4 linked regions of the Homo sapiens genome follow. The protein of the gene in region 2 purifies or fractionates together with the protein of the main gene of each other region. This does not show direct contact. Each region holds a gene or a part of one and is shown on either strand. Other genes may lie near its edges.

Evidence for each region.
Region 1: the proteins of DDX46 (region 2) and ZDHHC8 fractionate together in Homo sapiens (co-fractionation; one large-scale study listed by BioGRID). This does not show direct contact.
Region 3: the proteins of DDX46 (region 2) and EPN1 fractionate together in Homo sapiens (co-fractionation; one large-scale study listed by BioGRID). This does not show direct contact.
Region 4: the proteins of DDX46 (region 2) and SRFBP1 purify together in Homo sapiens (co-immunoprecipitation; one large-scale study listed by IntAct). This does not show direct contact.

Annotation. Positions count from the first base shown.
Region 1 is NC_000022.11:20,141,804-20,145,155, forward strand, and holds part of ZDHHC8 (palmitoyltransferase ZDHHC8), read left to right. Parts: intron 1-952; coding exon 953-1,953; intron 1,954-3,352. UniProt on the Homo sapiens protein: Palmitoyltransferase that catalyzes the addition of palmitate onto various protein substrates and therefore functions in several unrelated biological processes.
Region 2 is NC_000005.10:134,785,595-134,790,837, reverse strand, and holds part of DDX46 (probable ATP-dependent RNA helicase DDX46), read right to left. Parts: intron 2,326-5,243; coding exon 2,247-2,325; intron 1,623-2,246; coding exon of another isoform or gene 1,570-1,622; exon of another isoform or gene 1,224-1,569; intron 733-1,223; exon of another isoform or gene 616-732; intron 369-615; coding exon 286-368; intron 1-285. UniProt on the Homo sapiens protein: Component of the 17S U2 SnRNP complex of the spliceosome, a large ribonucleoprotein complex that removes introns from transcribed pre-mRNAs.
Region 3 is NC_000019.10:55,695,726-55,699,225, forward strand, and holds part of EPN1 (epsin-1), read left to right. Parts: 3' UTR 1-3,500. UniProt on the Homo sapiens protein: Binds to membranes enriched in phosphatidylinositol 4,5-bisphosphate (PtdIns(4,5)P2). Modifies membrane curvature and facilitates the formation of clathrin-coated invaginations. Regulates receptor-mediated endocytosis.
Region 4 is NC_000005.10:121,975,475-121,978,974, forward strand, and holds part of SRFBP1 (serum response factor-binding protein 1), read left to right. Parts: intron 1-3,500. UniProt on the Homo sapiens protein: May be involved in regulating transcriptional activation of cardiac genes during the aging process. May play a role in biosynthesis and/or processing of SLC2A4 in adipose cells.

The sequences.
Region 1 (3,352 bases), on a different chromosome or scaffold from region 2:
TGGCGTCTGTCCCTTGGCCAGCATTGCCCTAGGCCAGGTGGGCGGCTGCCCCCAGGAGCACTGTGTACCAGGATGCCTGGAATTCCACCATTAGTCACTCTGTAAGGCCCACGGGAAGACTTTGGAAGAATTTGAGACGTGCTTGAGAAAGCACATTTCTCTTCCCTGAGTTGCATGAGTGCTCTGTGGTCACTGGAATGGTGGGCAGTGCGGGGCGGTCTGTGCAGTGATCAGGAACACCAAACAGTCCCAGGGTGCCATCCTTCCTTCTGGGCCACCCCGAGAGGCAGGCCTGTGACTGGGCCCTGTGCACCTAGACCAGCCCCATCCCCAGGGACCTCTCCCCTCAGGACTGATGTCTTTCCTGGAGAGAGTCACTGGGTGAAGCAGTGAGTCTGAGCCTCCTTGGCCAAGGGTCTGAGTCTGCAGGCATGTAGGGGCCGTGCCTCGCAGGAGGAGGCATCCCTGTTTGGAGATGAGGGCTCTGGGTATGTCATCTTCCTGGGACTCCTGGGTCCAGTGGGGGATTGGGTCTGGTTGGCCAAGTGCATTGAGCCCACATTTGCCCTGATCCACTTCTGGCTTTGTGGTTCCTGAGGCTCTTGTCCCAAGCCCAAGCCCAAGCCCATGCCTATGTGCCCGTCACAGGGGCTAGACGAGGCTCCTCCTCCCTCTGGCTGCCCTGAGTGGTGGGCCCCTGGGGCTGCATGGCTCCAAGGGCAGAACCCCAGGTGTCTGCAGTAGCCAGCTGTGGCCTCCCTCCTGTTGCAGAGCCCCTGCCCCTCAGCCGTGGATGCTCAGGGACAGGGCCATGGGTCACTATGTGGCTCTTATGGCTCCTTGAGGCCCAGTTCCTGAGGCCACGGTGCCATGTGTGGCCCCCGTGGGTGCTGACTGGCGGCTGCAGGCGGGGTGGCAGGTGGGCAGTGGTGAGAATGCCTTCTCCCTACAGGTTCCAGGCCCTGATTCCCTGACCCTGGGGGACGACAGCATCCGTAGCCTGGACTTTGTGTCCGAGCCGAGCCTGGACCTCCCTGACTATGGGCCAGGGGGCCTGCATGCAGCCTACCCGCCATCCCCACCGCTCAGCGCCTCTGATGCCTTCTCGGGCGCTTTGCGCTCCCTGAGCCTCAAGGCCTCGAGCCGGCGGGGCGGGGATCATGTGGCCCTGCAGCCCCTGCGCTCTGAGGGGGGGCCCCCCACGCCCCACCGTAGCATTTTTGCCCCCCATGCACTGCCCAACCGCAACGGCAGCCTGTCCTATGACAGCCTGCTCAATCCTGGCTCGCCTGGTGGCCACGCCTGCCCTGCCCACCCAGCAGTTGGCGTGGCCGGATACCACTCACCCTACCTGCATCCTGGGGCAACGGGCGACCCGCCACGGCCCCTACCCCGCAGCTTCAGCCCCGTGCTGGGCCCCCGCCCCCGGGAGCCCTCGCCTGTGCGCTACGACAACCTGTCCAGGACCATCATGGCATCCATCCAGGAGCGCAAGGACAGGGAGGAGCGTGAGCGCCTGCTGCGCTCCCAGGCCGACTCACTCTTCGGCGACTCAGGCGTCTATGACGCTCCCAGCTCCTACAGCCTGCAGCAGGCCAGTGTGCTGTCCGAGGGCCCCCGAGGTCCCGCGCTGCGCTATGGCTCCAGAGACGACCTTGTGGCTGGGCCCGGCTTCGGTGGCGCCCGCAACCCTGCCCTGCAGACGTCACTGTCCTCGCTGTCCAGCTCCGTGAGCCGTGCACCGCGGACGTCGTCCTCCTCCCTGCAGGCTGATCAGGCCAGCAGCAACGCCCCGGGGCCCCGGCCCAGCAGTGGCTCACACAGGTCACCTGCACGCCAGGGCCTGCCCTCCCCGCCCGGCACTCCCCACTCACCATCCTACGCGGGCCCCAAAGCTGTCGCCTTCATCCACACGGACCTCCCAGAGCCACCGCCCTCGCTGACCGTGCAGAGGTGGGTGCCGGGAGGTGCGGGTGGGCTTCCTGGCACAGGGCAGCTGTCCAGCCGTCTCCAGGGCCCCTCTTGGCTGGGCACTCATAGGTCATCCCAGGGGCCTGAGTTTTTCTCTGGGGACGGGACAGGGAGGATGCGCCTCACCCTGCCTTGAAGGCCTTGGCTAGCCCGTGTGGCCCAGCTCTGAGGATGTCCTGGGCACGCTCTGGGGACAGGGTATGAGAATTTGTGTCCTGAGCCCGACGACTCGTTCTTCTAGAGCTGGCACAGACCCAGCATGTGGGAGGCCATGGGGCTTTCTCTTTGGGGCCAGTATCATGTGGCAGCCTGGGCCTCCTTTAGGCTGTGGCTCTGGCTTCCTGGGTCACAGTGGCCCTGTCCACCCAGGGCTCTCCCTGGGCCTGCTTGGCTGCATCTCTAGGAGGCTGGGGCTGAGGATATTACCTAGCAGCAGAATGTGCCACCCTGAGTGGCCGGGCCCTGGCCCTCCCTGTAGGACATAGTTCTAGGAAGCAGGGGCTTCCCTGCTCGTAGGTGGGGAAGCTGAGGACTGGAGAAAGCAGGCTGGCTCCAGGCACCCGGCAGGTTGGTGACTGAGAAGGCGGGGTCAGCTGGCTCACAGGCCCAGGTCCAGGTAGGAGAGCTGCACACCTGCTGGGGCCAGGACCCACGCCACAGACGCATGGTGTCCTCACGGCATCTGTCGCCCTGTCCGGGCCTGGAAACCTCAAGCACAGGCGCAGTTGTTTCCCGTCGGCAGATGCAGCCCCAGAGGGAGAGCCCAGCCCAGCCCAGCCCAGGCCACTTGGCCACAAAGGGGCTGAGGGCACAGCAGTCCAGCCCTGAGCGGGTCTCCTCTACCCCACAGGGTGGGACCTGTTCAGCTTTTGTGGAGTTGGGGAGGAGGCTGCCACTGGGAGTGATGAGTGGGGAGCCCGAGACCTAGAAGTGGGCAGCATTGCAGCCAGGCAGGGATCGCAGCCCGGGGACAAAGGGCTCTCGCCTCAAGAAGGTTTAAGTAGCAAAGATACAGCTGCTGTTGGTCAGCGCTGGTGGGCAGGAGGGCAGCCCCTCGTTTTCCTGAGAGAGAGCAGGAATGAGGCCAGGCAGAGTGGCTGGGCTCCCAGTGCAGGGCACGGCAGGGGCTCCATTCAGTGCCCACCTGGCTGCCCCATGCTCTCTGTGGCCAGTGCTGGCTAGGAGGGACCCAGGGACTCGGGAGGGTGGTGGCAGTTCTGACAACATCTGTCTGTCCTGTGACAGCACAGCTGCTCCCCAGGCAGGCTCTGCATCCCTCACCTGCTTTCCAGGTGAACCCTCCAAGCCCAGAGGGCAGGGACTGCACGGGGCCCCACAACTCGGCTGCACTAGTCCACGTCCGCGTCGTCTCTGTCTTGCT
Region 2 (5,243 bases):
AAAAAAAATAAGGCTTAAGCTCTATTATTAGCACTCCAATTCTAGCTTTGTTGGTGTTGGTCTTAGATGGCTAAGAAATGCCGGTATAAATACCTCCTGAAGAAGTTTTGTGAGGAATCTGAAACATAAATATGTACTTCAATACTGTATGTCCCCAGTCTTCTGTATTACCGTGCAACAGAAAAGTGTGTGTGTGAATTTCAGAAACCACATGAACATTTCATTCTCATGGCAACTACAAAGTTATATTTACATTTCAAAACACTTAAGAAATTTAATGATTACCTGGGGTTCAAAACCCATGTCAAACATTCTGTCTGCTTCATCTAAAACAACATATGTCACTCTTCGAAGATTTGTGACCCGACCTAAGATGAAAAGAAAAATAAAGACAAAAAGAAAACTAAAAATCAGTCACAATTCATTTTATGGCTACCAAGAACTTTTAAAAACTGTAAAGGAAACTAAAATGCCTGACTTAACCAGAGGGGTAAGTTAGGTATCTTTAAAAAGTGAAAAGAAATTTTGATCTACAATGTCTTAATCTAGTGGCAAATACTTTCTGACAATGGGTATATGAGGCCCTTTATTTTGTCAAACTCGTCTCTTGCATACCATCATAGGGCCTGAAGAACCTGTAAAATTCAGAAAACAGCCCTCTCCAAAACACATCATAAAACTAAGACTGAGATGAAGCATCGAGCCACATCAGCCATTATCTGACAGCATCACCTAGAAAAAAACATATTAGAGATTACAGCGTATGTGTGGAAAGCAAGTTCTAGTGCTAACTATTTTAGACACAGAAAATGTCTCTCTATATTATTTTATAACCTACTTCCATATATTTAGAAGCTTCTTAAATGGGCATGTCAAACCCTTAATGAGAAGCTATTTGACAGCATTAGGAAATTAAAGTATCACACAAAAACTTTAAATACCAAAACACATTACATAAATACATTTTCCATACAAAGATATAAATCCCAATTTTATTAAGTGAACCCACTGACTTAAATAAATGCAACTGGCTTCCTAACCAGTGAAAACAAAATACATACATAGGAAATTCCTTCTAAAATATTAACAGAAGCATTGCTATCAACTGTTGAATCAATCACCTGGCAAAAACACGTATAAAATAGTTATTTAAAAATAGACCACAATGACAGATAAGAGAAAAAGGTAAAATTAATCAAGATGAATTTCAGGAGGAGACTTAATCAATGCAGCATTGAGAAAAAAAAAAAGGGATTATTTAATCAGCATTCAAACCAAAACTTTCCATATGCTAGACAAGCACAATGACTTCTCAATTTCGATGTCACTTTGCCAACTTCATGTACAATTAGAATTAGAAATTCAAGCAGAATACTACTAGAAACATGCACTAACTCAGTTTTTAATACTCTATTATGTACACACTAAATATTGCAATGGAAACCTCTGAGAGCATTTTCTTCAAAAAATAAAAAGTGCCAAAATAAGTGCTATCTAATATTTAAGTATTCCACACTAGCATTTGTAGCCCCAATTAGTTTTGCAAGGTCGGGAACAGCATTAAATTACCTACCTTTGATGGTTTAAGTCTCGGAAGCCCAGTTCTATAAATCTTGAAGGGCCTTTCTCCACAGAAGTTAAATAATGTCAACAGTTTAGTAAGAGTTTTGATAGGGAATAATTTAACAAAGCATAACATTTGAGCTACAAACATGCAATATTTACAAAAGATAAAATTTCTTGAAGCTGCAATATCTTAATTTATGTAGTATCTAAGAAAATACTAGCTCATGTGGAGAAAAAGTCTAAATTTTGTAATAAAGAAAAAGCTACTACCCCACTCTTTTACTAAGCAAAGCCAGGCCAAAACTGGATTAAGAATCCAAGTTATGATCAGATGGAGTTACTTCTGAAAAAAAATTTTAAATTGCAAAAATATCATTAATGCTTGTAATAATCAACTTGTTACAATTATTATTTTTTTTTTTTGAGACGGAGTCTTACTCTGTCACCCAGGCTGGAGTACAGTGGTGCGATCTTGGCTCACTGCAAGCTCCGCCTCCCGGGTTCAAGCTATTCTCCTGCCTCAGCCTCCCAAGTAGCTGGGACTACAGGCTACAAATTTTAAGATACTGCAGCTTTAAGAAGAAATATAGAAACCCTTTGTTGGTTTCTTGCATCTGTTTTAACAAAAAAAAGTAAAGAATTCAAAAATAAAAGACACCAAAAAAATACCCCTGACTTACCACTGTTAGCGGCTAACATGTCAATCATTCGACCAGGTGTGCAAACAATAATTTCAGCACCTCTTTTCAGCTCAGCAATCTAATAAAAAAGATGAAACTTTATAGTCTATTACTAATGCTTACTTAAACACTAAAAAATACTGCATTTAGTTCTTGCCTAGTCTAATTAGAAGACTTCCAAGCTTCCTGCTTAATTATTTTGAATCTCGGGGCACTACTAAAGAAATAGCAACAACGTGACCACATAGTGCCATAAATTTGAAACAAATAAGAACTAGAGAATTCTGCAAATTTGATTTGCCACTATCCCTCAAAACCAAGAAATGAACTTAAGAAAGCAGTTTAAAAAAAAAAAGTGATAATCTCTTGAGCCCAGGAGTTCAAGGTTGGAGTGAGCTATGATCACATCCTTGCACTCCAGCCTGAGCAAGAGCAAGACCCTGCCTCAGAAAAAGAAATTTCTAAGTGACCACATAGACTAGTGTTTTTCAAATTGAGGGTTGCCACATTAGTGAATCATGAAATCACTTTAACAGTCATAATCAGCTTTTTTTTTTTTTTTTTTTGAGACAGGGTCTCACTCTGTTGCCCAGGCTCTGTTGCCCAGTGCAGCAGTGTCATCATAGGTCATTGCAGCCTAGATCCTGGGCTCAAGTGACCCTCCCATCTCAGCCCCTCCCCCCACCACCCCACACACCCTCCCAGTATCTAGGACTACAGGCACTCGCTAATTTATTTACTGTTTTAAGAGATGGGGTCTCACTACATTGCCCAGGCTGGTCACAAACTCCTGGACTCAAGTGATTCTTCCATTTCAGCCTCCCAAAATGCTGTGATGATTACAGGTATGAGCCATAGTGTTCAACCACAACCAGCATTTTTTAAATGAAATGGAATGGAAAATACCAGAAGTCCCTTAACATCATAAAACTTTTGTTTGGCATTTATATAAATACAACGTGCAGGCATGTACCATGTTATTTTGTAAGTGTATTTCTACAAACTACAGTCATGAAAAATCATAAAGATAAACTTAGAAAATGAAGTAATTTGAAGTAATTAAAATAGCACTGGAGTTAACAAAAGCAAATATTCTTGAAGTGTGTTCTTGTAACAATAGTCCTAAGAAACAGTTTTGTAGTTAAGTTCAGAAAACGTCACTTAATTTATCCCATTTATCTAGCAACACAATATACATTAGCTTATTAAGAACAAAGAAGTCTTACAGGAAAGAAAGTGGTTTTAACTTTTTATACTCCAACATTTCCAAAACTTATCCAATCACAGAACCTACTTTTTTGCCTTCTTCTAGTTAAGCAAAATATCTGAAAACTATTTCATTCTTTAGAAGACAGCTGAAGGGCTGGTCACAGTGGCTCACGTCTATACCTTTCGGAGGTGTTACAAAGGGAAGCCAAGGCAAGCAGATTGCTTGAGCCCAGGAATTCAAGACCAGCCTGGGCAACATGGCAAAACCTCGTCTCTACAAAAAAATACAAAAACTAGCCGGGTGTGGTAGCATGCGTCTGTGGTCCCAGATACTCAGGAGGCTCAAGAGGGAGGACGGCTTAAGCCCAGGAGGTCAAGGATGCAGTGAGCCAAGGTCACACCACTGCACTCCAGCCCGGGCAACAGAGTAAGATGCTGTCTCCAATAAAACAAAACCAAAAAACAACAACAACAACAACAACAAAACACCTCTGATATTAATGCATCCCAGTAATCACCATCACTTCCGCCACCCCCCAAGATGGAGTCTTGCTCTGTCTCCCAGGCTGGAGTGCAGTGGCGTGATCTCAGCTTACTGCAACCTCCGCCTCCCAGGTTCAAGTGATTCTCCTGCCTCAGCCTACCGAGTAGCTGATATTACAGGCAGGCGCCACCAAGCCAGGCTAATTTCTGTGTTTTCAGTAGAGACGGGGAGTCTCGCCATGTTGGCTAGGCTGGTCTTGAGCTCCTGACCTCATGATCCACCCGCTTCGGCCTCTCAAAGCGCTGGGATTACAGGCATGAGCCACCGTGCCTGGCCACCATCACTTTTTAAAGATGTCAGCATAGATTAGAGAAACAAATGCTCAGAGATCAGAGACCTAGGTTCCAGGACAAACTCTAGAACGTATTAACCTAATTGGTCAACTTAATAAATCTTTCTGAATATTTCCTCATATGTAAAATGAAAAAAAAAATCTGCTTTCTCAGGCAGGGGAAGAGGGAGGAGGGATAATCTATGTAAAAAGATTCAAAAATTCTAATCTAGCATTAACATAGTATGTTCTTTTTTGCCACAACTATATTGGGTCATAATTAACAAAAATTATATATATTTAAGGTGTACAACATGTTTGATATACATATACACTCTGAAATGATGAACACAATCAAGCTAACATATCACCTCATATAGTTACCAATATTTTCTTTTGTGGTAAGAACATGTAAGATTGGTCAGGCACGGTGGCTCACACCTGTAATCCCAACACTTTGGGAGGCCGAGGCAGGAGGATCACCTGAGGTCAGGTGTTCAAGACCAATCTGGCCAATATGGTGAAACCCCGTCTCTACTAAAAATACAAAAATTAGCCAGGCGTGGTGGCAGGCACCTGTAGTCCCAGCAACTTGGGAGGCTGAGGTAGGAGAATCGCTTGAACCAGGGAGGCAGAGGTTGCAGTGAGCCGAGATCGCGCCACTGTACTCCAGCCTGTGTGACAGAGCGAGACTCCATCTCAAAAAAGAAAAAAAAAAAACATGATGTGAGATCTACTGGCTTAGCGAATTTTCAGCACACAATATAACATTAACTAGTCACCATGCTGTACATTACATCTCCAAAGGTATTCATCCTACATAAAATAACTAATTCTTACTATTATTTTTATACTTCATTTTTTAAATGATTTTAGAAGCAATCACTATTCAAAAAACTAAAAGTAAAAGTCACTTTTACTTTATTGAATCATCCAACTTGAGAAAAGAATGGAAAACATGAATGTTTCTTAT
Region 3 (3,500 bases), on a different chromosome or scaffold from region 2:
TGGCAACTTTGGGAATAAATGGCAATTCCCACGGGCTTGGCACTCCCAGATTCCCATCTGTGATTTCGTGTGTCCCCCAGAGCCCCTTCATCCAGGGACCCAGGGCTCAGGTCACATCTCTTTCTCGGGGGTGGCTGGCAACCAGCCCCTCTGTCTCAGAAGCCCTGATTTCCCTGACCCTCCCAGGTCAAGGGATGGCTGGGTTGAGGGTGGACTGTGCGAGGCCTGGCGGAGCTGTAGCCCACACAGGTCCAGGTGGTCGGGAGGCCACTCATGGCCAGACGCTTCCGGTGCAGGAGGCCTTGCTCTTGTGTTGAGGGGACACCAGGATGAGGTCAGAGAGTGCACTGGGGTTCAGGGAGGAGAAGAATCCTGAGAGATGGCACATGTGCAACACAGGTCACCGTCGCCATCGCCCGGGCCCACCGCAAGCATCACTAATCCATCCCTGCACTCCTGGAAAGCCGGGTCAGCCTCTGCCGGCTGAGCTGAGTGGACCACCAGGCGCCTCCTGGTTGTCCTCTGTGTGCTGTTTTCCTCTGTGTGCTCTTGTCCTGGGCTGGACCACACCTGGTGAGACTATCCGGGAGAATCCTCGGGCCGCCTTGTGAGGGGGGTGTTGCTGTCATCTCCAGGGCTAGGTGACAGCTTGTTGCAGGCCCCACAGCCAGGGCCTCAGGGATGGGGATCTGGCCATGTCTGTTTTAAGCCGAACAGGCTGTTCTTCCATGTGGAGTCTCCCTCCGTGATCCCCTGGGGTCAAGTCCTGACGGCTGGGTTCGCTCCCTCAGTGACTCCGACAGCTCTTGTCTCAGAGGTGCTGGGGTGAAGGCTGTGTGGGGCCAGGCCCCTGGGGTCAGACTTCTTGCCCCTTCTGCCCGGGGGACGCTCTGGGCTCAGGGTGGGGCCAGACAGCTACATCACAGGGACACTTGTTATGGGTCGGGGTCCAGGGAGCACCCAGCCAGTGGAGTGTTGGAGGCCACTGAGAGGGACATGACTGCGGTGTCCGAGCAGCGTCGTGGCCACCCTGTGTGCCCACTCCCTGGTGGACAGACCTACGTCACCTGGGGATTGCAGAGCAAAAGGAGTGCTGTTGGGGTGATGTGAGGTTGGGGTTCTGTTTCTTGCTGTGAATTGGGTCATGACCTGTGTCGGAGCGTTCTCTGGCCTCCACTTGCCCCTGCAGACCAGGGTGTCTGGAGGGTTGTCGGGGGCTTGATGGAGGAATTGCTGACCACACCATGCAGGAAGAGGTGGGTCCCAGGGACACAGGAACTTTGGGGTCAGCCGGTTCCAGATTCAGTTGCAGAGGAGCATCCCCCTTGCTTAGCCAGGGAGGGGAAGCCCTCTTCTCACACCCGGCCTGGGTATGTTGTGGGAGAGTCATTTCCCAGGAGGAAATGGGGACTGTTACCGGGGGAGGGGGTGCTGTCCCCAGGCAGCAGCAAGCGTCCCTTACGCTTGGGCTGTCCGAGACCCTGCTGCTCTAGGCGGTTGTGATGGGGGAGCCCCACAGGGCACAGAGAGCCAGCTGAAGGCGGCAGCTCTGGGTGGGATCACATGGAAAGGGGAGGCGAGCCGAGCCTCCCTCTTGCCAATCTTGGTCTCCCCACAGGGTCATAGCTCCTGGGCCCCTCACTTGTCAGACCCTCCATTCACCAAATTAAGGATAAGTTTCACGATTTCGCACTGCGGAGCCTGCACTCCCTTTCTCTTCAAAAAAGCTGAGGACGAAGATAAAATGATACAGTTGGATTAGTCCAGTGGAGGGGTTAAAGGTGTGAGGCTTTAATTCTCCCCACCATTTCCTCATTTGGCAAAACAGAGAAGACAGGATTGAAAAACAAGACAAAAACCCAGAGGCTTGCACATAAATTTGGGGCTTAACTACAGCATCTTCGGCATCTTCTTTTCCCTACAGTGCGAATTACAAAGTAGCACCACAGATCTCGTGTCTCCTACTTTATTCCTCTTTCTAGAATATTCCAGCCACCAAAGTGCTCAGCAGGAGCTGCTGTGTAGGAGTCCCCCATGAGGCCCAAGCACCTGAGCTTAGTGACATACACGGTTGAACGCTGGGAGAATGCTGGGAGCCTGCTGTTGTCCCCGATTGAGGGCTCCCCCCACTGTGTGTGTATCACTCTTTCTACAGCAGATGTGTCTCTCTCCCCACAGTGGGATGGCGAGCTTGTTAAATGGCCGTGAGGAAGACTTTATTCAGGACCATCGAGACAGGTACAGGTACCATCAGTGGATGGAAAATCACTAAGAGCAAACCTCAGGGGTCCGGGGGTTTTCGGCTAAACCCACCTAGCAGGATTCTTGCTGAAGGCAGGCCAGGGTGATCAGAGGTCACCTGGGGATGGTGGAGGCTGAAGAAGCCTATCAGATGTGAGGGTGGCGGGGGTTGGGGGGGATGGCGGCGGGGTTCATTTGCTGAAAGGATTTTACAAGGGCATGCACGGATGGGCCTAGGAGGAGGTTCAGATCCCTCAGGTTTGGCTAAGCAAGAGTCATGGTGGTGCTCCCGGCTGGCTCTCAGGAGCAGATGTGCTTCTGACCCGACGTCTTCCCCCAGAGAGGGCTGAAGTGGAAAAAACCCCAGAATTTCTCCCTGGGACAGGTGAAGCGATGGGGCGTGGGACATTCCTGGGTCTCGACTCTGTTCAGGGCCTAGGGGTTGGGTGGGGAAGGCACTTGAGGGAACCTTCCTGGAGCCCGTAGGAGCTTCATCCGAGCTCCTGGGTCACCCCGCCCACCAGAGTCCAGGCCCACCAGAGTCCCCTGCCACCTGTGCTCACCCTAGCCTTACCCCTCGCTCTACTCCCGCCCTCGCCCTATCCTCGCTCCTCGCCCTACGCTTGCCCCTCGCTCTGGAGCTGCGATGCCAGCCTCAGGGCTTTCAGTCCTGCCTTGATCTTTTTTTATACTGAAACTCAATTTTACACACACAAACCCACTCCCAGCCAGCCTCTGCCTTTTGCCTTTTCCTCATGTTCTCATTGAATAGGAAGAAATGCCCTTTTTTTTCCCCCCTAGAAGGAGTCTTGCTCTGTTGCCAGGCTGGAGTGCAGTGGCACGATCTCGGCTCACCGCAACCTCCACCTCCCGGGTTCAAGCGATTCTCCTGCCTCAGCCTCTCGAGTAGCTGGGATTACAGGTGCCCACCACCACGCCCAGCTAATTTTTTTTTGTATTTTTAGTACAGACGGGGTTTCACCATGTTAGGATGGTCTCGATCTCCTGACCTCGTGATCCGCCTGCCTCGGCCTCCCAAAGTGCTGGGATTACAGGCGTGAGCCACTGTAGCGGCCCCCACCCCATTTCATTTTTTATTTTTTTATTATACTTTAAGTTCTAGGGTACCTATGCACAACGCGCAGGTTTGTTACATATATATACATGTGCCATGTTGGTGTGCTGCACGCATTAACTCGTCATTTACATTAGGTATATCTCCTAATGCCTTCCCTCCCGCCTCCCCCAGGCCCTTAGTT
Region 4 (3,500 bases), about 13 Mb from region 2:
AATATTCCCGAGAGTTGCGTAAGACATCTTGTATCAGTCTGTTTGGTGAAGAATGTAGCACATTTAGAAAATTGTAACATTTAAGCTTGCATTTTTCTGTTTTTGACTGAATTTGTTAAAGTGCTAGGCTAATTTGAGTCAAAATTGTGCCAAACTAAATTCATCTATGTTTAATAATGCCTCCTGCCTCAGGTTTTTATTTTTACTGTAACTTTAGCACGAAGTCAGTTCAAGAATTAAAGTCTTCATGCTATTTGGGAATGTGGATGGTGATATTGGTGGCTGACATCATGCTTTCCTTGTTGCCAGCTCAATAAATTTTTATGTATTGGTATCGGCATTTTATTCAGTTCTGTAGTAACTTCAAATAAAATTAGTGTTAGACCAATGTGATCCCATATTTTTGTTTTTTTTTTCAGTCAGACTCTTCACTAGCATAATTTTTAGGTCTTCTTGCTGCTCTTACTTTGAGGAAACTTTCATTTACCAAATGACATGACATTAAATGTCTGGGAGACTGTTTTACTGTAGAACTTAAAAACAACATTTGGTCCCAGCAATTTTCTTAATTGCAGGGTCATTTTGCATGCATGTTTGCCTATTATATTTTGGTATAACTTTCAAGTTTTGAATTAAGTAAAAGAGAAATAAAACTCTCTAACTATTTTAATTGAGTTAAGTTATCAAAGATTCTCAGCCTTTCTTCCTTTTAAACGGATAGTAAAGTGTTTAATAGGACAAAGTTATCCCAGTTAATCTGAATAAAAACATCTAGGAAACGACTCTTTGATATGAAGTATATTTGTTTCTTGTGTTCTTCCTTCCCTCTGCTGCACACTATTATAAAATTCATGGAATCCATCTGATATAACTTTTATTTCTCAAGGTTATAATTCCCTTTTTATTCAGTCCTTCAGGAAAAAAAAGTCTTCTGTATTTGACTGTCAGTGATCATTTGTGTCTCTGTGGTTTGCAGATTATTTAGTTTTTTCATATACCTTTTTAAAATGATATTCCTATGAGAAATAAAATCTTTAGAGATTTTGTCTTGAGAATAGCAATAAAATAGGAAGTTACAATTTATCTCTTTCACTTTCTCTTAACCAAGGTTCTTACTAAATTACATTGCCTACCTAAATTTTTCCCTGTAATTTCTTCTGAATAGTCATTTTTGTAGTCTTAAATTATTCAGAGGCTTTGAGCTACTATATAATTGCTGATTTTATTTTACCATGGAAAGAATGCAGTGTGTGTGTGTATGCATGTATATATATATATAATATATATATGTGCATACACATACACATACAATGTATAGTTGGCTACTCTGACTTTAACTTCTTTTGTAATACTGTTTAAAAACTGGAGTAAACTGGAATTTGTTAAATTTTTTATATATATAAAAAATATATACATACACACACACTACATTCTTTCCATGGTTTGTTATATATAATAACTTGTATGTGGTGTATGAAGAGTTTGAGAACAAAAGATACTCAATCTTTAGAATACTTCCCTTTTGTAAATTTCAGTGATACATTTGATTAATTAGAAAGAAAAGTTGTCCTTTTTGATCTAAATGTAAAGCCTGTTTTCTGTTTCTTGTTTTGAATCTCATCAGCAAAGGGAAATCTGATTCAGTGATAAAGTTTGTAGGTTTACAAGATTACCACATCACTATCGTGGTTTGGTTTGGTTTGGTTTGGTTTGATTTGTGTTCTATTTTTCCCTGTGATTGCGCAATGGAATGGTTGCATCATAGAAAGCCAAATTCATAGCCTATGTATTCCTTAAATTCATAAAATTCATAGTATATATATGTCTTGAGTTTGTGGCAGGAGTTAGGGCAGGCTGGGTTGGCTACTCTGACTTCAACTTCTTTTGTAATGCTTTTTAAAAACTGGAATGAATTTAAATATAAAATGAATACTAGAAAGACTATATATTTGCTGTTCTTACGTGTCAAATTTTATTCCTTATTTATGGTTCTTTTACAAATTTTGTTGTCTTTTCTAAACAAAGCAAATAAATAAAGCATTTTTCTTAATTAAAAGGTCATTTGTAATTTTCTTAGGAAATGGTTATTACCTACTTGGGAGTATCAAATAAATGATGACAAAACAAACTCTCAATCTCAATTAAATTTGGAGAAAAGACCTCTGCTCATTTATTTTTCCAGAGAAATTTTTTCCTTGGCTCAGACACTGCTTCATTTTTATAGTCTTATTGATGACATACTATCCTATTCTTGCTTTCTATAATAATAGGGTATTTTGTTGCAGGATGACTTCTTTGTGAAGAAATCATGAGTATTTTTAGAAATGAGAGTTTGCTTTTTCTGGCCAACTAAGAAAAAAAATTGGCTTGATCTTTACACTATAAAATCATAGGTTCTAATTTTATAGACTATGGTGTATGAAACCCAAGTCTTTGCTGCCTTTTCTATAATAGTGTCCATACTTTTAACTTTGATATTAGTAGAAATATTGCCTTCTAAAACAGTTTCTTTTTCTTTGAAAGTTAGTTAAATTAGCCTATCAACACTTATAGATCAGTAAGTTACTTAACTGGAGAAGGAGATGGTAAAATTCAAGCATATACTGAAATTACTCAAAATGTGCAACAAGTCTCTTACTCAATAATAAAAGTAACAACTAGCTTTTACTGAGCATTTACTATGTGCCAGGCATTATATTATGTGTTTTATATTTACTGTCTCACTAGGTAGATATCATTTTTATCCCTGTCTTACAGAATAAGAAACTCAAGCTTAGAGAAACTGAGCAACTTATAACTGATTATAAAGCTAATTATGTTATCCACTGTAGTATACTGCTTCAGTAAGTTGAGAACATCCTATGATATATCCAGACTCACTTTCCTAGATATTGGAGGAGATAATTTAGTAAACATGAAACTTGCCATCTAGGAAAAAAAAGACTGAAAGATGTGCAACGTGTTTTCAGATCCTTTAATTCCTGACAGGTAAATATACACAGTAGCCTATATCTGTATTTCTTTTTTTTTTACTTGAGATGGAGTCTCTCTCTGTCGCCCATGCTGGAGTGCAGTGACCCGATCTCTGCTCACTGTAACCTCCGCCTCCTGGGTTCAAATGATTCTCCTGCCACAGTCTCCTGAGTAACTGGGACTACAGTTGCCTGCCATCATGCCTGGCTAACTTTTGTATTTTTAGTAGAGACAAGGTGTTGCCATGTTGGCCAGGCTGGTCTCGAACGCCTGACCTCAGGTGATCCGCCCACCTCGGCCTCCCATAGTACTGGGATTACAGGCGTGAGCAACCACTCCTGGCCTATCTGTATTCTTTTTTAACCTCTTCCTCTCTTAAGGCTGTTACTTCTTCCTATCCTGAATATTCTTTAAGATGAGAATTTATGTATTCTTCTTTGAGACCTTGTTCTGCCTGCTACCTCTTACTTCTCCTCTAGTTTAAAACTTTCTCCTTTTGTTCTATTCTTCCCCTAGTTTTACATTCT